3 linked regions of the Homo sapiens genome follow. The protein of the gene in region 2 purifies or fractionates together with the protein of the main gene of each other region. This does not show direct contact. Each region holds a gene or a part of one and is shown on either strand. Other genes may lie near its edges.

Region 1 (7,112 bases), on a different chromosome or scaffold from region 2:
ATCTCAAATACTAGATATTCAATCAAAATATGACAGTCCATCATAATCGAATGGCAGACAAAATAATGGCTGTATTCCCCTTATCTAAATAAAGTAGGTATTCTAGTCATATAGAAGATATTAACACAAACTCTAATTATAAATACAGAGAATATTCTACTTTATTCAGATAACAGCTGACACGACTTCTTGTTTTGCTTTATGTTCTCCTTACTACAAATGAAATTCCTGGACTCATGACATCAGTAGGTACTGGAGGCTATGCAACCTGATTCCCTGTACCTGCTTTACAAAAATATAACTTAGAAATATTAAGTGCCTTTACCTCATAAAGACATTGTGATTTTTGGTATTAGGTATGTTTTGAATTCAGTAAATGTATGAAAATACATTTATATGTGCTTAATTTCTTATTCACTTAATACATATAATCTTACATTTTCCCTTGCTGATAAAACCTAAATTTTAAGGCAAAGATTTTTAAAAATTTGAATAATTAAGATTCTGGTCTACTATGAAATATACTAATCTTAAAACATATTCTTGGTGATAAAATAATCCTGATTCCTATAAAATCAAAGCTACAGGTAATATTACTTATATTATGAGGTAAGTCTCATTCCTGGCATTACCAACTTACTCTAAGGGAGGCACTGAATATTCCATTTTAAAGGAATTTGAAGCCTAAAATGACAAAATTCAGAACAGTACAACTAAACAATGGAAGCTAGAAAGATCTGGAAGAAATACATTGCAAAGTCCACAGCACAGAATATACCTTTTAATTCTGAATAAAAAAAAGTCCCCAAATAGAAAAACCTATATTAAAATAAATAAACAGTAATAAAAAGAAATATCCAATTATGTAAGTGTTGGATGAAATGCTAAAGCATGAAATAACCACACAAAGGAAGAAAATAAATGGCCAGTTTGAAGAATCTTCTGTCATCTGGTTCCCCAACTACACTGTGTGCCATACACAATATGAGACAAAATAAGGGCTTTTATTAGTTTAAGTTTTGAGTACCTACCAACAAAAAAAAAGAGAAGAAAGATTCCCTAAAAATTGGTAAGAATTTTATTGCTTCTCTTTTTATTTCAAAAGCAATTTACTTATTTGATATAAAGACAGGTACCTCAAAATATTTGAAAAGAACACGAGTGAGTGTCTCTCTGAAGTGAGAAGGACATAATACCGATTCGATAATCACAACTCGGCGGTCTCTGGGATTCACCAATAGATGCCTGAAAAGTGAAAGTTTTGGTTTTAAAAGTAAAAGTTTTTATTCATTTTGTTAAGTCATACAATTTAAGAACAGTGAAACTGTACTACCTTAGCTTAAGATATTTTATCACAAAAAGACATCTTCATTTTATTACCCCAGAAAGATAACATTTCTGACCTCTTACTATGTACCGTGCAGTGTGCTAGGAAATTCATTAACTTACTTATCTCAGAAACCTAAAATTATAGCCTACTATGATTACCAACTTGAGCCATTATATAGATTTTTTTTTTTTTTTTGAGACAGGATCTGGCTCTGTTGCCCAAGTTGGAGTGCAGAGGGGCAATCTCACCTCACTGCAACCTCAGCCTCCTGGGTTCAAGCCATCCCCTGATCTCAACCTCCTGAGTAGCTGGTACTACAGATGTGAGCCACAGCACCTGGCGATATTTTCTTTTTTTTTAGGTTACAATAGTAATATATGCTCACAAAGCTCCAAATATTATGACACGTAAAACTTGCAAAGTACAAGAACCTTATATCTCTACTACTCAGAACTATCACTGATAGAAGTTTGTATTTTTTTTCATTCTTATGGATGTATGGGGGTATGTTTTAACAGAAATACTCATTCCATAGATGTGGTTCTTTAACTTGCTTATTTCACTTATCAATATATCCCACACACCTTCCTGTACTACTACATACAGATGCAGAACTCTTTTTAAAGAGCTGCATGGTATTTCACTGTATGAATGTAGAATAATTTAATTATCAGTTCACTTCATTAATGAATATTTCATTTTCAGTATCTCTTTATGTCTGCCAGTTTTCTAGTCTTCAAATATATTTTTGAAAAGGTTGAAAATAAGCATGTAAAAATGGCAATAGAAGTCCATTTTTTTTTTTTTTGGCCTCAGCTGTAACACAACCAATTATCACTATGGCATTAGGAAAATCTATCTAATCATAAAAGCTAGAAAACAAAATGTATCTTACCTGAAATATAGTATGTGGATGAATTCCTTTAGGTAGGAATATAATTCTTCTGTATTGATATTATACTGAACAACTCTGACAGGCTGTAAAAAATTAAAATGATTTATTAATTTATATTAATAAAATAACCTCAAATTAAGATTAAAATGTAATTATTTACTAATACATTTTCTGGGAATAAATTAAAAGCAATCTGTATTGAGAATATAAAAATTAAATACAGAGTAATCTCTTAAATTAGGAATCCTTAAGAATCGGAATGTCTAAGATGGCAGAATGTTTTAGTCTGTGGTAATGGAAGTGTGTGTTCATAGGAAGTAAAGAGCATGGCTCACATGCATTTTTCCTCCATCTGACTTATCATTTTGGCTTGAATGATAAAAATCAGCTTTGAGGCCAGGTGTGGTGGCTCATGCCTGTAATCCCAGCACTTTGGGAGGCCGAGGTGGATGGATCACTTGAGGTCAGGAGTTCGAGACCAGGCTGGCCAACATGGTGAAACGCTGTCTCTACTTAAAATACAAAAATTAGCCAGGCGTGGTGGTGTGTGCCTATAGTCCCAGCTACTCTGGAGACTGAGGCAGGAGAATCACTTGAAAACCCTGGAGGAGGCTGCAGTGAGCTGAGATGGCTCCACTGCTCTCTAGCCTGGGCAACAGAACCAGATTCCGTCTCAAAAAACAAACAAACAAACAAACAAACAAATTTCCAGCACTTTGGGAGGCCGAGGCAGGTGGATCACCTGAAGCTAGGAGTTCAAGACCAGCCTGGCCAACATGGTGAAACCCTATCTCTACTAAAAATACAAAAATTAGCTAGGCGTGGTGGCGTGCACCTGTAGTCCCAGCTACTCAGGAGGCTGAAGTGGGAGAACTGCTTGAACCCAGGAGGTGGAGGTTGCAGGGAGGCAGAGGTTGCAGTGAGCCAAGATCGTGCCACTGCACTCCAGCCTGGGTGACAGAGTGAGAACCTGTCTCAAAAAAAAAAAAAAAAAAAAATTCAGCATTGAATAAAAAGCATCAAAGGCTTCCTCAAATACTCAACTTGGTTCAGTCCCTGTTAGTCCAAAAACACTGATATCTTCTCTTTTGCAACATCGCCACACTGAATTACTTGTAAAATGTCCCCCTTTCTGCTAGATTATAAGCTCTATGCACAAGAACTATTTCTGGCTTGCTTATGATATATCTTTCTTCAAATAATACAGTTCCAGGTACATAGTTGTGGTTGTTCATAAATATGTGTGATAAAAATGACAACAAACACCATTAGCACAAAAGCAGCCTACACACATATTACCAAGCCATGAGTGCTAAGTCAATGCTAATATATAACAATGGCTTCACTTATGATCCTCAGAAAGCTCTCAGTACTCTGATGCATCATTGGCAGACCTCTCTTCATTTACTCTTTCAAAAGAAGTACCATCAGCCTAATTTCTTGATTTTATGTGGCTTAAAGAAGATTCCAAACCATATATAATCAAATATAAATAATTTTTTAGGTATCTGTCTTTTCAAATGAAGATAAAAACTCGTTCGGGCGCAGTGGCTCATGCCTGTAATCCCAACACTTTGGGAGGTCAAGGCGGGTGGATCACCTGAGGTCAGGAGTTTGAGACCAGGCTGGCCAACACGGCGAAACCCCGTCTCTACTAAAAATACAAAAAAAAAAAATTAGCTGGGTGTGGTGGAGGGCGCCTGTAATTCCAGCTACTTGGGAGGCTGAGAGAGGAGAATGGCTTGAACCCGAGAGGAGGAGGTGGCAGTGAGCAGAGATCATGATACTGCACTCCTGCCTGGGTGATGGAGTGAGACTCCATCTCAAAAAAAAAAAAGATAAAAGCTCAAAGCACCAAGGAAAGTGGCAACAAAAACGTACAGGGTCTAATCCAGTAAGAAATCTATCTGGTAACACAGTAATGCCAATTGTTATAAAGCAAAATGACATGAAAAATTAGTAAACAGGAACTTCCATCCCCCGCCCCCGTTTTTTTTGACATGGAGTCTCCCTCTGTTGCCCAGGCTGCAGCACAGTGGCATGATCTCAGCTCACTGCCACCTCCGCCTCCCAGATTCAAGCGATTCTCCTGCCTCAGCCTCCCGAGTAGCTGGGACCACAGGTGCCTGCCACTACACCTGGCTAATATTTGTATTTTTAGTAGAGATGGGGTTTCACCAAGTTGGCCAGGCTAGTCTCAAACTCCTGGCCTCAAGTGATCTGGCCACCTCAGCCTCCCAAAGTGCTGGGATTACAGGCATGAGAGACCACACCCGGCTTCCATCACATTTTTGAACATCAAACCACCAATATCTACCATATTTCTGGCTTGTCCAAGGATTTGCAGAAAAATTTAAAATCAATGAAATGATTCCTTAATCAAGTGTAATTAAAAAGATTTCTGGGCCGAGCGCAGTGGCTCACACCTGTAACCCCAGCACTTTGGGAAGCCAAGGCGGGCGGATCACGAGGTCAGGAGATACAGACCATTCTGGCTAACACGGTGAAACCCCGTCTCTACTAAAAAATACAAAAAATTAGCTGGGCGTGGCGGCGGGCAACTGTAGTCCCAGCTACTCGGGAGGCTGAGGCAGGAGAATGGCATGAACCCGGGAGGTGGGGCTTGTAGTGAGCCCAGATCATGCTACTGCACTCCAGCCTGGGCGACAGAGCAAGACTCCGCCTCAAAAAAAAAAAAAAAAAAGATTTCTGATGTATGTAAATGCCAAATATAAACTGCTGGTCTCGTCTATTCTGCTATAACATGTTTTTTTTTGTTTTTGTTTTTGTTTTTTTTGAGATGGAGTTTCGCTCTTGTTGCCCAGACTGGAGTGCAATGGCACAATCTCAGCTCACCACAACCTCCACCTCCCGGGTTCAAGTGATTCTCCTGCCTCAGCCTCCTGAGTAGCTGGGATTAACAGGCATGTGCCACCATGCCCGGCTAATTTTGTATATTTAGTAGAGATAGGGTTTCTCCTTGTTGGTTAGGCTGGTCTGGAACTCCTGACCTCAGGTGATCCACCTGCCTCAGCCTCCCAAAGTGCTGGGAGTGAGCCACCGCATCTGGCCAACATGTGTTTTTATAAAACCAAATATGCTTATATGCGATTGCTAAAAAAGGAAATAATGTCAGAAAAATGTTATAGTTGTATTAGTTAATATTAGGCAAGACAAGCTATAATTATAATGGAAGTATAACTTTCATCAAGAAAAAGAAAGTCATCAACTCAGTTATCACACAGGTAGATATGCTTTCAGATCTATTCATAAGAAAAGTGTAAATAACTCCCTACACCAGCAATTCGTGCCTCAGAGTGGATCCATGACTCTGTTGGGTTGCATTTCCTCCTAGTTGCTACTTAATAACAGTCCCACTGGCTCAGAGCTTGCTACCATCTGCACTGACTCAGAACCCACTGGCTAACATTTTCAATCCATGACTTTTATTTTTATTTGTTTATTTTTGAGACAGGGTCTCACTCTGTCGCCCATGGTGGAATGCAGTGGTGCAATCTTGGCTCACTGCAGCCTCAACCTCCTGGGCTCAAGTGATCCTCCCACTTCGGCCTCCCAAGTAGCTGGGGACTACAGGTGCGCACCACCTCCACGATTTTATTTTATTTTATTTTTTTGAGATGGAGTCTCGCTCTGTCGCCCAGGCTGGAGTGCAGTGGCGCAATCTCGGCTCACTGCAAGCTTCGCCTCCCGAGTTCACGCCATTCTCCTGCCTCAGCCTCCCAAGTAGCTGGGAATACCAGTGCCTGCCACCATGCCTGGCTAATTTTTTTTTTTTTTTTTAGTAGAGATGGGTTTTCACTGTGTTAGCCAGGATGGTCTCGATCTCCTGACCTCGTGATCTGCCCGCCTCGGCCTCCCAAAGTGCTGCGATTACAGGCGTGTAATCTGCCCAGCCCACAATTTTATTTTTAATATTCCCTAAGACAGCCTCCAGCCACACTCAGCTGCCTGCCAATCCTATTTAAATTTTGTGGAGGCATCAATTATTGTTTTTGCTAGTCCTCTGATTACAAAGTTACACAGGTTTTATATGGACTACCTCAAGCTTATTTTTCCCATAAGCCTGTTTTGTTTTGTTTTTTAAAAATGTACCATTTTGCAGAACAAAGGTATTTTCTGGAATGCATATATAATGTTACTGTGGTAACAGCTACATCTCATTTTTTAACAAGTGAATTTTATAACATGCAAAATCATTCTTTCTACTGGTTGTAATTTCTAATCTGCCAAATTAGCTGTGGCAAGAAACTTTTTGAAAGTTTGTTTTCAAAATTCTCTGGGTTTTGAAACTGTAAATAAGGGAATAAATATCTGATATATTATAAATAATAAAATAATTCAGTGGTTATAAGACTTATAAAAGTATTTTACTGAAGTTAAAATTTTTCTCTTGATATATGATTCCATTTACATAAAATGTACAGAAAAGACAAATCTATAGAAACAGAAGGTACACCCTAATGGGCTGAGGATAGGAATGAGGATTAATTGTAAACGGGTATTAGGGATTTTACTGGGGTGATGAAAACATTCTAAAACTGGATTGTGGTGGTACTTGTACAACATGATATACTTATGGTGTGCAAAATTAGACCTTGATAAAGTTGATTTAAAAAGAAAAACTTTTCCTTGGAAATATAGCCACAAAGTATATATTTAGTACTGTTTCTTGTTTCTTTTTTTTTTTTTTTTTTTGAGACGAAGTCTTGCTCTTGCCCCCCAGGCTGGAGTGCGATGGCTTGATTTTGGCTCACTGCAACCTCCGCCTCCCGGGTTCAAGCAATTCTCCTGCCTCGGCCCCCTGAGGAGCTGGGATTAGAGGTGCCTGCCACCACTCCCGGCTAATTTTTGTATTTTTAGTTGAGA
Region 2 (7,199 bases):
AAAAATATATATGCAGCATTTCTGTATGTTCCAGAAAATTTATGGGATCTCGGGAAAGCTTTAACCCCTTTAGATCTGGCTTCCTCATCCTAAGACTGTAGGGAAGATTAAACATGTTAATCCTTGTAAAGCACTTAGAACAGTGCCTGGTTCACAAGTACTCAGTAGGTGTTTTGATAAGTATTCCTGCTTCTGTTCAGTTCTTTTTCTTAACCAGGCCTGGTCCATCATCTTTATATATTTAAATTTTACTTTTCAAATAACCAAAACAATAACAATTAAAACATTTAGATTCTTCTCCTCTTCCCACCCCTTAAAGCAAACTTAACATGAGAAGGTATTTTATCATCTTAAAAAAAAAGTCTTATAATGAATTAAACTCATTATATTAATTATTCAATTCCTACAAATGCAAAATTATGAAAATTCCTTTGAAACAATTGGCTTATGACTACTAAGCTCATTAATGATCTATCAAAATTATCACTCAGAAAAGCATCACAAAAGCTTCGGGTCAAGGACACCCCAGGCCCTGAAAGGGATTTCTCAGTACCATCCCAGAATATTTCTATAGCACAACAGCCGACAGCCATTAAAAACAGTGAAGAACTTCAAAGTGTGCTAAATTGGAAAACCACCAAAACAGTAATACAGAACAGAACATACATGTTGAGATCCTGCCTAAGTAAAACAAAGGATATAGGTGTGTGTGTGTGTGTGTGTGTGTGTGTGTGTGTGTGTATGCACACAGACATGCAAGGGAGAGAGAGAGAGAGGGAGAGAGAGGCAGGGAGGTAGAGATTATGTATATATAGAACATTTCTGGAAGAACACTCATAAAACTGTTAACGTAGGTTATATAAAATGTTTTTGAGCAAGAAAGTGACAAGATCAGATCTGTGTCAGCAGATTCACATGGCTACTGAGTGGGATGGGGTGCTGAGGGCTGGAAGCAATTGGGAGAGACTGAAGCCAAGAGACCCATTTAAAGGACATTGCAATTGTCAGGTAGGAGTTGATGGGGGCCTGTTCTGAGGCAGTGAGATAGAGCAAAGGACAAAAAAGGAAATTAGATTCACTTTAGAAAGCCACCCAATTGCAGCCCCAGGGCCTAGCACAGTACCTACTGGTACTAGGTGCTCAATAGGAAAGAAATGGTCTCCTGCGTGAAAGACTTATAATTTTAATTTTCAAAGTCATCCCACTGGGCACCTGAACATGACAACCCCACTGGCCCCTTCACCCTCTTCTCACGAGTTCATTCCCTCAGCCCTGGGCCTGGGGAGCTGGGTTGTGGGGACAGGTCCACAGGCAGGTGAGTCCAGGGCTCAGGCCTCTACCTGTGCCCCTTGCTGGCCCTGCCCACCCAGGAGGTCCCTGCTGCATCCCCATGGTCCCACTCAGATCTATTCCTACACGCACACACACACACACACACACACACACACACACACACACACCCGCTACAAACACTTACATTTAGGAATTGCTTAAAATATATATTTTTAATGAGTGAAACAATGGAAGAGAGTGAGCAGAAGGATGAGGGTCTCATAAGTGTGGCATCTGATGATAGGTTGCAGGAAACAGCCAAAATTCCCAGAAGACAGAGCACTCAGCGGACACCTCTTCAACCTCGGCATGCAGGAAGGCTCTGTTGGAAGGCTTTGGTGGCAAGGGACAGAGAGGGGAAAGAGGGAGTTAATGCACTTATTTTAATATCTCTTGAGCCTAATGCGGGATCTGGTTTATAGTGCCCTGCTCAAATGTTTGTTGAATGAATGAAGGAAAGGTTGGATAAATGGGTGGATGGCTGGGTGGATGGCTGGATGGATATATGGGTAAATGGATGAGTGGATGGATGGATGGTGGATGGATAGATGGATGGGTGGATGGGTGGATGGATGGCTGGATGGATATATGGGTAAGTGGATGAGTGGATGGATGGATGGTGGATGGATAGATGGATGGGTGGATGGGTGGATGGATGGGTGGATGACTGGATGGGTGGATGGGTGGATGGATGAATGGGTGGGTGGATGGGTGGATGAGTAGATGGATGGGTAGATGGATGTGTGGATAAGTGGGTGGATGTGTGGATGAGTGGGTGGATGAATGGATGAGTAGGTGGGTGGGTGGATTGGTGGGTGGATGGGTGGGTGGATGGATGGATAGATGGTGGGTGGATGGATGGATGGGTGAAGGGATGGATGGTGGATGGATGGATGGTGGATGGATGGGTGGATAGATGGATGGGTGGATGGGTGGATAGATGGATGGGTGGATGGGTGGATAGATGGATGGGTGGATGGATGAATGGGTGGGTGGATGGGTAGTTGAGTAGATGGATGGGTAGATGAATGGGTGGATGAGTGGGTGGATGAATGGATGAGTAGATGGTTGGGTAGATGAATGGGTGGATGAGTGGGTGGATGAATGGATGAGTAGATGGTTGGGTGGATGGATGGATGGATGGATGGATGGATGGATGGATGGATGGATGGTTGGATGGATAGATGGTGGGTGGATGGATGGATGGAAGGGTGGGTGGATGGATGGGTGGGTGGATGGAAGTGTGGATGGGTGGATGGATGGGTGGATGGGTGGATAATGGATGGATGGATGGGTGGATGGATGGGTGGATGGGTGGATGATGGATGGATGGGTGGATGGATGGTGGATGGATGGATGGACGGATGGATGGGTGGATGGGTGGATGGATGGGTGGATGGGTGGATGGATGGGTGAGAGAATAGATGAGAGACTACTTCAATCTGGCTTTCAGGGACAAAACTGAAACCCATGTTTTGTGGCAATCAGATGGCTGTGGGAACTTTCAAAGATGGCCCTCAGGGACCCCCACCCCTGGTATTGTGCCCTGTGTAATCCCCTACCTTTGAGTGTAGGCTGTGCCTGATGACTTCCTTCTAACGAGTAGAATATGCCAGAAGTGATGGAATATCACATCCTTGAGTATATTACAAAAGACTGACCTACCTCTTCCCAGACTCTCTCCATAGCCCTCTCTGATGCAACGAGCTGCCAGGGCGGAGAGGCCCACATGGCAAAGGACTGATAGTGGCCACAGCTGACAGCTGAGAGGGGCTGAGGCCTTCATCCTACAGCCCTAAGAAACTGAATCCTGCCAACACCAGCAGCTTGGAAGTGGATCCCCCCTAGTGGAGCCATGAGATGAGACCTCAGCCCCTCCAACACTTGGATGGCAACTTATGAGAAACCCTGAGCAGAGAACCCAGCCAAGCAGTGCCCAGACTTCTAGCCACAGAAACTGAGATGACAAATGAGTGTTATTTCAAGCCACACACTTTGAGTTAATTTGTTTCCAGAACAGATAGCTAAAACAAACGCTGATTTGAGTTTTATATAAAGATGGATGATGTAGCAATTAAACTTGGCAAATGATGGTAGTGGTTTTGATACTAGTTGGCTTGGGTTTGAATCCTGGATCCCCAACTTACTAGCTGTGGGGCTTTGAGCAAGATGATCAATTTCTTGAGCCTCTGTTTCTGCATCTTTAAAATGGGCATGATTCTCTGGTCATAGTGACAACACAAGGATTACATAGATTATGTAATGTACTTAGCCCAGTGCCTGTCATGTAGTAAGCACTGGATTAAAGGAAGCTATTAGAGGGAATAATAATAATAATAATAATAATAATAATAATAATAATAATGGAGCAAGATGCCTTACAAAGCAGTGAGTGTTCCATGCCTGGAAGTGATTGAGTTAAGGCCAGATGGCCATGGCAGGAAGTGACTAGAACCCTGGAGGACCCCAAAGCCTCTCCCAAATCTCAGATTTGAGGGCCGTGCAGCTGGCTTGGCCAATGCTTGGGGTTGGTGGGCCAGCTGAGCCACGGGCCCCTCTTGGTGTGACCATCAGCATTATCTTGCACTGGGCGGGCGGCGGGTATTCCAGCCATGCCCAGCCTTCCCCTCAGATAGCCCTTCCCTCCTGCACCACTTTTGTGTCAGGTATGTGGCTGCCACCCTGGCTCAACCCATGGGGCCCAGGAAGGTAAACACCCAGCCGGGAAGTGATCGTTATGGGCTCGTGGCCAGCTATGGGCCAAGGCAGGTCTAAAGGTCGGGAATGCTTACCAGTGAAGCTTTTCCAGGACAGGACGAAGTTTTTGGCTGTGGGCTCTCTGGGACAGAGTGGAGCGCCTGTGGATTTAGCCGGGGACACACCATCCTGCTCGCAGGTGCCTGGACAGGACAGGGGACGAGGGAGGAACACTCTCTGAGGAAGCCCAACTCCTATGAGCTCCTCTCTGGCAGGTGAGAGAATGGTTTTGGTATTTTTTAAAAAAATAAAATGAGATAAAACAAGAGAAGGAACAGAGGCTACCGCTAGGACAGGTAGGAAAGGAGATTACCACCCATCCATTCACTGAGGAGGAGCCCCCAAGAGAAACAGCAGCCCTGGATTCCACCCGAGGGATCCTGTCTGGTCTCGGCTTCAGCACTGCCCCTCCTGGCACTCAGTTTCACCATCTGGGAATCAGGATAAGGACTCCTTCCAGGCGCTCTTCCATTATGGCTGTGGGGTAAGTGAGATCAAAAGCAGGAATGGCTGCATAATTGCAGGGCCCTGTGCAATATAAAAATGCAGGGCCCCTTGTTAAAATAGTAAGGCTTTCAAAAGGACAACAACACAGCATTAAAGCAAGCCGGGGCACCTTCTAAGAACAGGGCCCTGTGACTGCCCAGGCCCCACACCCACGACGCCAGTCCTGATAATGAGCGTATATGTAAACGGAAGTGCCCTGATTCCTGTGTGCCATGGCACAAATCTCAGGGTCAGGAAGTGCACTTGGGAAACAGAAGTCATAGTCGTGAAGTGACAGCCCACTGCGCTTTAGCTCCCCCAGCACTGCCCCCTCCGCTCAGGGGCCCCTTTCAGAAAGACAGAAGGCCCTACCCCTCAGAACCTTCCTGATTTTTGCATCTGGCTGGCCTCAAGCCACAGCACGGTGTGACTGAAATGTGTAGGGACACAGTTTTCTTGGATGTGAAAGTGGTAGGTTCTTATTGTCTATCTTGATTTAAAATTTGGGACAGTCACACAGTCTCTGGCTGTGTAGAGGTGGGACTTGTGTTTCCTGGGCTCGTGACAGCTCTGCTATGTTCCATTGACTATCAGTGTATTTCTGCTTTTTGGGAAAATCCTTAATGCAATAAGGCCACTGGTGGGAATGTTCCAGCTTGGACACTTGCCATGTGTCTTTGTCCTCCCTGCCCCTTCTCTCTTTCTCTCTCTCTCTCTCTCTTTTTCCATTTAGGCTTCCCCTTTGCCCATGTCTCAGGCTGCCCCTTGGCACTGCTTAGCTCTGAGGAAGTAGAAGCCAGGGTCCCCTTGGGGGTCAAGCTTTCTGGTCCATGAAGGGAGACCACAGACCACCTCCCTCCACCGCACTCTCCTCCCACATCCCTTTCTGGAGCCCAAATTGTCATGGGAACCCCTCCCAGGGAGGGGATCCCCACAGGAAAGCCAGGGGTTGATCCAATGACAGTGTGAGTAACATTCCACAGCTTTCTGCCCCAGTGGGGCTGGGGACACAGATGAGGCTAGACATGGGGGAAGATGAATTGCTTTAAGAAGAGCTGATGCATGCCTGTAGTCTCAGCCACTCAGGAGGCAGAGGCAGGAGGGCTGCTTGAGCCCAGAAGTCATGCGGTGGGCTATGATCATATCACTGCATTCCAACCTGGGCAACCTGGCAAGACTCTGTCTCTGTTCCTTTTTTTTTTTTTTTTTCATTGCTTTAAGAACTTCCCTTGGCCTGTGGGAGACCGGAAGCTTGTACCAGTAACAAAATAGCCCAGATGTTGTGGGGCCACCCAGAGCCTCTCAGAGGAGACCAAACCTAACCACCCAAGCCTGCTGGCTCTACCAGGGGCGCAGGAGCTGCTGTTTGTCCCAAGAAGCTGGTGAGCCACCAGCACCAAGTCGGACATCCCGTCTCCCAAGATGACGTCCCTTCCCCATCTACATGGGCCCATTGCTTCCCGAGTAAGGAGTCAGCTCTGATGCTCTGAAGTCACCCCCCAGCACAACCCCAATGGCAAAAATTCCTTTACTCCTTCATAGATAATTGCTGTGCACAGTGTATGTGTGAGGCTTTGAAGTGGGGCTGGGGACACAGATGGGACAATGGTGGCCCTCAGGCTAGTGGAGATGAAGCGATGCTGTGTCCCACACCCCCGAGGCCAGGCCAGAAACCCCGCTTGGTGAAAAGAGCACACCAGCCCTCTCACCCCAACAACGGTGATAGGATCCTGAGGCTGAGAGGCACCGTGGCCCAGCGGAGCAGGGGGTTCCATCTCTGAGCCTGGATGGGCTGCCTCTTTTCAGACCCCCCTTCTCCCCGCACCTAAGCCCCCTCTGCTACCATGATGGTGTCTTCAGGAGGCTGCTGGGCCTCAGGAAAAATTCCTTCCCTTGGCCTGGGACCACCTCTCCCCACCTTGGGAGAGGTCAGACCAGGGGGTGGAATTCTGCCTCCAGACTGGAGGACCCACCCCAGAAGGCTGAGGACTTCAGCCTTACTCCTCCTCCCTTTGTTTGGCAGCCATCCTGGAGGCCAGGGCCGTGGGAGACCACATGGGGTCTGAGCACTGAGGAGGGGCCATTTGCTGGAGCACCCTCTGTGGGCTGCTTTTGGGAAACTAGCTCAGGTGGTTGATTAAGGACCTGGGAGCCTGGGTGAGGCCATCTCACAATCTTCCTGCCTCAACTCACTTTGCCTGTGGACAAGGAAAAAAAAAAATCACACGTTCAAATGAGGAGGATGGGCACCATCAAAGGGATGGATGATCAGCAAGGCCTGCATGGAGGAGGTGGCCTCTGAGCTGGCCATCATTCAACAATCTTCCATCACTTATTAATGATTTTCCAGGAGGAGGAGAAGAACTGGGGGTGTGGTTTGATGTATTATAAAGCAAGCATTACTACCTTGAAAATAAGGTAGTAATTCTTTTCACACTCACTCAGAATGAATGCTCCAGGTTCTCTAAATAGCATACGTTCACAGATAGCACATTCCAGGTGAAGGGACAGCAGGGTTTTAGCAAAAGGGAGGGAGCCCTGCAGTAAGGGTTGGGCCAGTGGAGGCAGAGACAGGGGAGGCATGAGGTCTGTTTAAAAGATGCCAGCTGGGCGTGCTGGCTCAC
Region 3 (7,112 bases), on a different chromosome or scaffold from region 2:
CTCATGTCCTCTCTACCCTCTCTCCTCCTCCCACTCTGGTTAGTATGCTCCCAGCACCAACTCTTGCATGTAGCCAGTTCCTGAACAGTACCATCCTGACTTAACAGGAGGAAGAAAAGATAATGAAAGATTTGTGGGGTCAGGGAAGCAGAGAACCACCCTTGTTTAGAGCCTGACAGGAGTCTCAGACATCTAAGGACTCTTAATTTAAAGGAGGAGTCACTGGAAGAACTGTGCGTGATTCCTATGTCAATCTAGGTCTCAAAAAGATGCATCATTTACCTGGCTCAAACAAAGGATTGTACAAACAAATCAAAAAATGACTTGATGAAATGATTTAATAAAATAATTATCACATGTCAAGCATTTTTATAATATACATAGAGTCTTTAGTTCTATTTGACTGGGTCATAACATTTAAGAATTAAGTGATATCTCCATGTAGGATCCTTAGAGACGACTTGTTTCGGGGCAGGATGTGGTCAGGGGACATGCCATTGAAACAATACCCCAACTTGTCTTCCCACTCAATGACATTTCAAAATCAGAATAAACCCAAGAAGCTAAATAAAAACAGACTTACCCAATATTGCAGGAGTGCTTCTATAGCTCTAAACTCAAAAGGTAAAGGGTATGTAACGAGTTGACCCTCTCCAGACAACTGTGAAGGGAGTTCCCGGAACAGCCATTGCTCTAAGTTTAAATTACGATAATCTAATATCAGAAGACACTCTGGAGTTATCACAGCTTTCAAATACTGTTAAAAAAAAAAAAACCAAAACATATAAATATGTGAGTGTATATACACACATGCATGTATATACATATATATGTATACATACATATATATATGCAAATTGTAGAGCTGTAGGAAAAAAGAACATTCATAAAATTTGGTTTAATACTTTACTAATTGTGGATTAAGACTAAACCAAATCAGTGTTCATTTTTGTTTTTCAAAAAAATCAAGGTTTTTTTTTTCAAAAGAAAAGAAACTTAAAAAATATATGTCTTGATACTGCTAACTCACTCTCAATAAAACTGGAATTATTCACATAAATTATATATTTACTAAGACTTCTGGGGTAATCATGAAAAAAAAACAAAAACAAAAAAAAAAACACCAAAAAATACCCCCAGAAAGCCGGGCATGGTGGCTCATGCCTGTAATCCCAGCACTTTTGGAGGCTGAGGAAGGTGGATCATGAGGTCAAGAGATCGAGACCATCCTGGCCAACATGGTGAAACCCCGTCTCTACTAAAAATACAAAAATCAGTTAGGCGTGGTGGCCCACACCTGTAGTCCCAGCTACTTCAGAGGCTGAGGCAGGAGAATCGCTTGAACCTGGGAGGCGGAGTTTGCAGTGAGCTGAGATTGTGCCACTGCACTCCAGCCTGGCGACAGAGCGAGACTCCGTCTTTCTTTTTTGGAAAAAATAAATAAATAAATAAAGGGAACAAGATAAGGTCTTCCTAAAAGTCAGGTATTGAGCAGACTTTTAGAAAAGATTTAGTTTAATCATAATTAGTTTGGCACAAATGGAAGTTTCCTTTTTAAAACACCACTAAAGCATATAAACAAAATCTGAAATTAAGATGAAACATAGCCTTACTACTCTAATTTAGAACAATATGAAATTAGAATTTTTTCTAAAAAGACTGGTTATCTTGTATGTTAAAAGTAGATAAAGGTAGCCACTTTATCAGTGATATAGAAATTAGAGATAATTTTCTATTTTTACATTTTTCCAACATTCTATCATGAATTTTTTTTTCTTTTTTTTTTTTGAGATGGAAGTCTTGCTCTGTCACCCAGGCTGGAGTGCAGTGGGGCAATCTCGGCTCACTGCAACCTCCACCTTCAGGGTTCAAGCTATTCTCCTACCTCAGCCTCCTGAGTAGCTGGAATTACAGGCACCCGCCACCATGCCTGGCTAATTTTTGTATTTTTTAGTAGAGACGGGGTTTCACCATGTTGGTCAGGCTGGTCTCGAACTCCTGACCTCAGGTGATCCACCCCTCTCGGCCTCCCAAAGTGCTGGGATTACAGATGTGAGCCACCACAACCTAGCCTCATGAAAATTTTTATACAGAAAAGTTGAAAGATTGCAGTGAACACCATATACCCACCAGTTAGATTACACAATTATCATTCTGCTGAATTTGCTTTTTCACATACCTGTCTGTCTCTCCATGAAAGAGACACTGTTTTGAAGAATGCTAGCTACTGATTCCAAGAGTAGAGAATATTTCTGAAGAAAATCACATGGGAGAAGACTGCTTCATTTTTGATAAAGTATTTTTTATTTACTTATTTATTTTTAGAGATGGGATCTTGCTATGTTGCTTAGGCTGGTCACAAACTCCTGGTCTCTGGTGACCCTCCCACTTCAGCCTCCTGAGTAGCTGGGACTAAAGGCACATGCTACCAATACTGGCCCATTTTTTATTATTTTGATTAGTTCTAGAAAAATGAACAAAAATCTGCCATCAAAGACTCTTTGAAGAAAGTCTCATACCCACTACAGGGCCAATACCATTCATCTATTTTTGAACCTAAACATTAGCCCACCAAAATAACTGAAACCCACATTAACTCTGAATCACTAAAGAAAGTCAAATTATTATTTGGCATGCTCTGAATAGGTAAGGGAAAATACAATATATTTCAGAAAGTTTTCCATTAAAAAAATTTAAACTGGCCAGGCACGGTGGCTCATGCCTGTAATCCCAGCACTTTGGGAGGCAGAGGCAGGTGGATCACCTGAGGTCGGGAGTTTCAGAGCAGCCTGACCAACATGGAGAAACCCCATGTCTACTAAAAATACAAAATTAGCTGGGTTTGGTGGCTTATGCCTGTAATCCCAGCTACTCAGAAGGCTGAGGCAGGAGAATTGCTTGAACCTGGGAGGTGGAGGTTGCAGTGAGCCAAGATCGTGCCAGCCTGGGCAACAAGAGCAAAACTCCATCTCAAAAAAAAAATTAAGGCTATAAAATTTAATGTCTATTCCTGTGCTATTTAGAAAGCCAGAATACATTTTTGGTAGCTCAGGTTATACTATAATTACATGTAACTGTACACAATTGGATATATATCTATTATAAATCAGGATTGTCTTATAGTTTCCAGAACTAGAGAGTAAATCCCAACAGTGAGAATGAACACCACAGTCAGAGCTTTTCCAACTTAAAACACAGCAGTGTTATGCCTATTGAACATGTGCATATAATCCATATAAAATGAGTTCTACTCATAATAGCATATTAAGCTATAAAACATCCTATGTTTCAGGTAGCTATTTCTATTCCAAAATTACTTTTAACCTAGATACTAATCAAGATAGTTAGAAGGTAACTTTTATAAGATTGTATTGGAGAAACATAGATGAAAATAAAATATTTTACCTCCATTCTCATGATAATCCTATTGTTTCTGACTGTGATACTCATTACATGCTGAAATCTCAAATCTCTGGCTTGAAGACCTAACTCTTGGTATAATTCAGTTTTCTTCCTTTCTATAAAAGAAATAAACAGAGAGGGCTAAACCAAATACATTAAATGGCTTAGATTTTTCCATCAGAGCAGTCCTCCCACCACCATCAAGACAATTTTTGGTTACTACCAGAAACAAAAACTAAAATTAAGTCTTTTAATATCCATTTTTACCTAGAAAACATACTCGGGCTAAATAGAGTCAAACTAATGATTTTCTTATCTATACCTCATAACTTTCTCACTACTTAGAAGACCCTTGAGACTAATACAGAAACCACAACTATGCATCATTAGAACCTATAAATGTCCAGCTCTAGAGACAGGTTATCTCTCTTAAATATAAACTGTACACAACTATATTTTCTATTTTTACTACAACATCATCTTCAGTATTTTATATATGTGAACAGATAAGCTTGATTTTCTTTGTTCTTAGACTAATACAAAAATGAGAAAAGCTGAATTTATTACCTGAGACTGATTCATTCTCAAGGGAGATGTGAAACTCACATCTGAAGTCACACTGTAAAGTAATGCCTAGTCTCACTTTTTAAAGTAGCTGTCCACAGAGAGCCATCAGCAGCAGAGTTCCATGTGGCTGCCATGCAGTGACATGGCCCTGTTCATCTTTTGTCACCCACTGCAATGTCAGTGGTATTATGTGACTCTGCCTTAAACATGCTTCAGGAGAATGAATGAGGGCAGTGAAAGGGACGCCAACAAGAGAGACAAAAGAGAAAAAGAGTGTGTCTCTGGGCTCCAGTTCTACACCAGCCTCTGCTCTCCCAAATATTCCTTCAATAGCCTGTTAGAGCAAAAAGTGGCTCCTGCTAGAAGAAAACAATTCTGGGAGAATACACACAGTCTGAGTATTGCCAGCTCCAATTAAGACTGATGGACAAATGCTGAAGAAAGATCTCTTTCAACACACCTGTATATGCAAAGAATATTTTACTCAAAATACTACAATTTCTTGATTTCTATCAGATTCACTCATTAAATGTTTAAAAAATGATTTAGAATGCTAATCACTCACCAAAAGAAGTAACGTTTCCCTGTTTGTCAAATTTTGTCTGAAAATAGAGAATAAAACAAATTATGATTTTCTTTCAAATTAGAATGCTACTTATGGTATTGCTAATTTAGTTAAGAATTTATGGTATTGTAAGTAATATCCCCAAAATGTTGAAATGCAAATATAAACCATTACTGACCTTCTTTAGATTAAATCCAGTTATGAGTTAAGGGTTTTTTTAAAATCCTTTTTTCCTTTGATAGGAAAAATCAGACCTGGGTTTAACTTTCTATCTTGGTTCCTCTAGAAAGTTGATAAAGGAGTATCAGTTGTGTTGTTACTAGGTAACAATCCTTATGGTAAAAATGACCATTGACTGGTAGACTGCACTGGACTGGGAAGACGAACAAATTACAGTTATCAGGTGAAAAGCAATAGCTCTCTTTGCCCTTTCCTGATTGTGGTGGCTCTTGTGGCCATGTTCCCAGCCAGAATCCTGGACACTGTGCCCCTGCGATGGTTACAAGGGATACTGTCACTACGGGGCATGGGGATTCGAGCCAAGATGAATCTCACATCCACCTTTGAGAATCTTATCTCCTTGTCACTGAGCGATCACTCAGAGGACCAGAGAAGCCCCTGGATGGCTGCAAAGACTTCTTTTGAAGAGGAAACACCTAACACTACCCTGTTGTTTCTCCTGTCCCTTATCCTTCTGAGTAGACTGGGACCAAGTATGGCCCGCCTTGTGAATCTAAATGTCTACATGAGGCCAAAGTCTCTTTGGTGGGTGTTGCAGAATCAATAAAGATTTACAGAACCCCTTCTGATAGTTTGAAGAGAGGATTTGATACAGAAAATGCACCTATTTCCTGCAAAGTAGGGGACTATCTTTCAGTGATGTTTATCCACAGTCAAGTTTGAAGCTGTGAAACATTTAATGAATCACTATGTGCTGAGCTGTACTACTTACTACGACAGACACATTTCAGAAAGACACTCCAACATACAGGTTTAAGTACAATATAGGTCTTGGGTTACTACCATGGAAATATACATGCTGTGTTAATCACACAATAAAAACTCACAATATATATATTTTATCTTGCTTCTCATCAGCAAAAATAAAATTAATATGAATATATAAGTTCCATAGAACATTAAAGGAAAATTTATATCAAAGAAAGCTTTATATTTGTGTAATAGTCTAGCTTTCAGCCTTATATTTCACAAATACATAAACCCACTGCAGAAAATTTGAAAATAAATATACGTAACATAAAACTATATTAATCACCTGAAATGACAAATTTTAGAGAAAACCATGTCAATATTTCACTGAATATCCTTCCAAACATTTTCCTAATAAAACATACTTATACATACTGCTTTGCAGTCTCCCTCCTTCCAAATTAGCAACATATGCTGAATATTTTTGCATCTCAATATTTATATGTACCCTTTTTTTCTTTAATGGAACTTAAAAAAATTTTTTAAATCATACAAATTATAAAGAAAAAAATATTTACTTTGTAACCAGCTCACTTTCTAAACTATTTCAAACAGCACAAATTAAATTTTTCTTTCTCAGATTCCATAGCTTTATGAATTTCTTAAGTGTTCTTTGCAATTATTTCACCTGCAAAGAACTAACTTTCAGTATTTCACGTTTGACTTTGTATTCTTTTTTTGAGACAGAGTCTTGCTCTGTTGCCCAGGCTGGAGTGCAGTGGTGCAATCTTGGCTCACTGCAACCTCCACCTCCCAGGTTCAAGCGATTCTCCTGCCTCAGCCTCCTGAGTAGCTGGGACTACAGGCGTGCACCACCACGCCTGGCTAATTTTTTTGTTTTTTAGTAGAGACGGGGTTTCACCATGTTGGTCAGGCTGGTCTAAAACTCCTGACCTCAAATGATATGCCCACCTCAGCCTCCCAAAGTGTTGGGATTACAGGCGTGAGCCACCGTGCCTGGCCCTGATTTTGTATTCTTAACTAAATTGGCCAACTCTTCCAGAACAATGAATAACAGTGGTAACTTTTAAACGCAATTCTGGGGGTTATTTAATTTTATATAGTTTATAAAGAAAAGCTCTTATGTTAACAAGCCTAAATAATCCTAATGAAATATATTTGAGGCTTACTATATGTGAGGCACTAGTTTAAGGGCTTTCTATATATGAGTTAATTTAATCCTCATAACAATTCTATATGGTAGGTTATGCTCAGTTTTCAGATGAGAAAACTAAGGCACAAAGATGTTATTGTAACTTGTCCAAGGCCACCTAGTCAATAAGAGGCAGAGTGAGATTGGAATTTAGGAAGTCTGGCTCAGAATAGGCACACCTTTTTTTTTTTTTTTTTGAGATGGAGTCTCACTCTGTCTGCCAGGCTGGAGTGCAGTGGCATGATCCAGGCTCACTGCAAGCTCCGCCTCCTGGGTTCATGCCATTCTCCTGCCTCAGCCTCCCAAGTAGCTGGGACTACAGGCGCCCACCACCAGGCCTGGCTAATTTTTTGTATTTTTAGTAGAGATGGGGTTTCACTGTGTTAGCCAGGATGGTCTCAATCTCCTGACCTCATGATCTGCCCACCTCGGCCT

Evidence for each region.
Region 1: the proteins of NGEF (region 2) and ACTR10 purify together in Homo sapiens (affinity purification with mass spectrometry; 2 studies listed by BioGRID and IntAct, with this or other methods). This does not show direct contact.
Region 3: the proteins of NGEF (region 2) and MRS2 purify together in Homo sapiens (affinity purification with mass spectrometry; 2 studies listed by BioGRID and IntAct, with this or other methods). This does not show direct contact.

What each region holds. Positions count from the first base shown.
Region 1 is NC_000014.9:58,203,132-58,210,243, reverse strand, and holds part of ACTR10 (actin-related protein 10), read right to left. Parts: intron 2,309-7,112; coding exon 2,226-2,308; intron 1,246-2,225; coding exon 1,137-1,245; intron 1-1,136. UniProt on the Homo sapiens protein: Part of the dynactin complex that activates the molecular motor dynein for ultra-processive transport along microtubules.
Region 2 is NC_000002.12:233,010,173-233,017,371, reverse strand, and holds the start of NGEF (ephexin-1), read left to right. Parts: upstream 1-4,115; 5' UTR 4,116-4,304; exon of another isoform or gene 4,305-4,758; intron 4,759-7,199. UniProt on the Homo sapiens protein: Acts as a guanine nucleotide exchange factor (GEF) which differentially activates the GTPases RHOA, RAC1 and CDC42. Plays a role in axon guidance regulating ephrin-induced growth cone collapse and dendritic spine morphogenesis.
Region 3 is NC_000006.12:24,405,867-24,412,978, reverse strand, and holds part of MRS2 (magnesium transporter MRS2 homolog, mitochondrial isoform b precursor), read right to left. Parts: intron 4,572-7,112; coding exon 4,535-4,571; intron 3,519-4,534; coding exon 3,406-3,518; intron 2,253-3,405; coding exon of another isoform or gene 2,180-2,252; intron 758-2,179; coding exon 584-757; intron 1-583. UniProt on the Homo sapiens protein: Magnesium transporter that mediates the influx of magnesium into the mitochondrial matrix and regulates magnesium metabolism. Also permeable to calcium, sodium and potassium ions.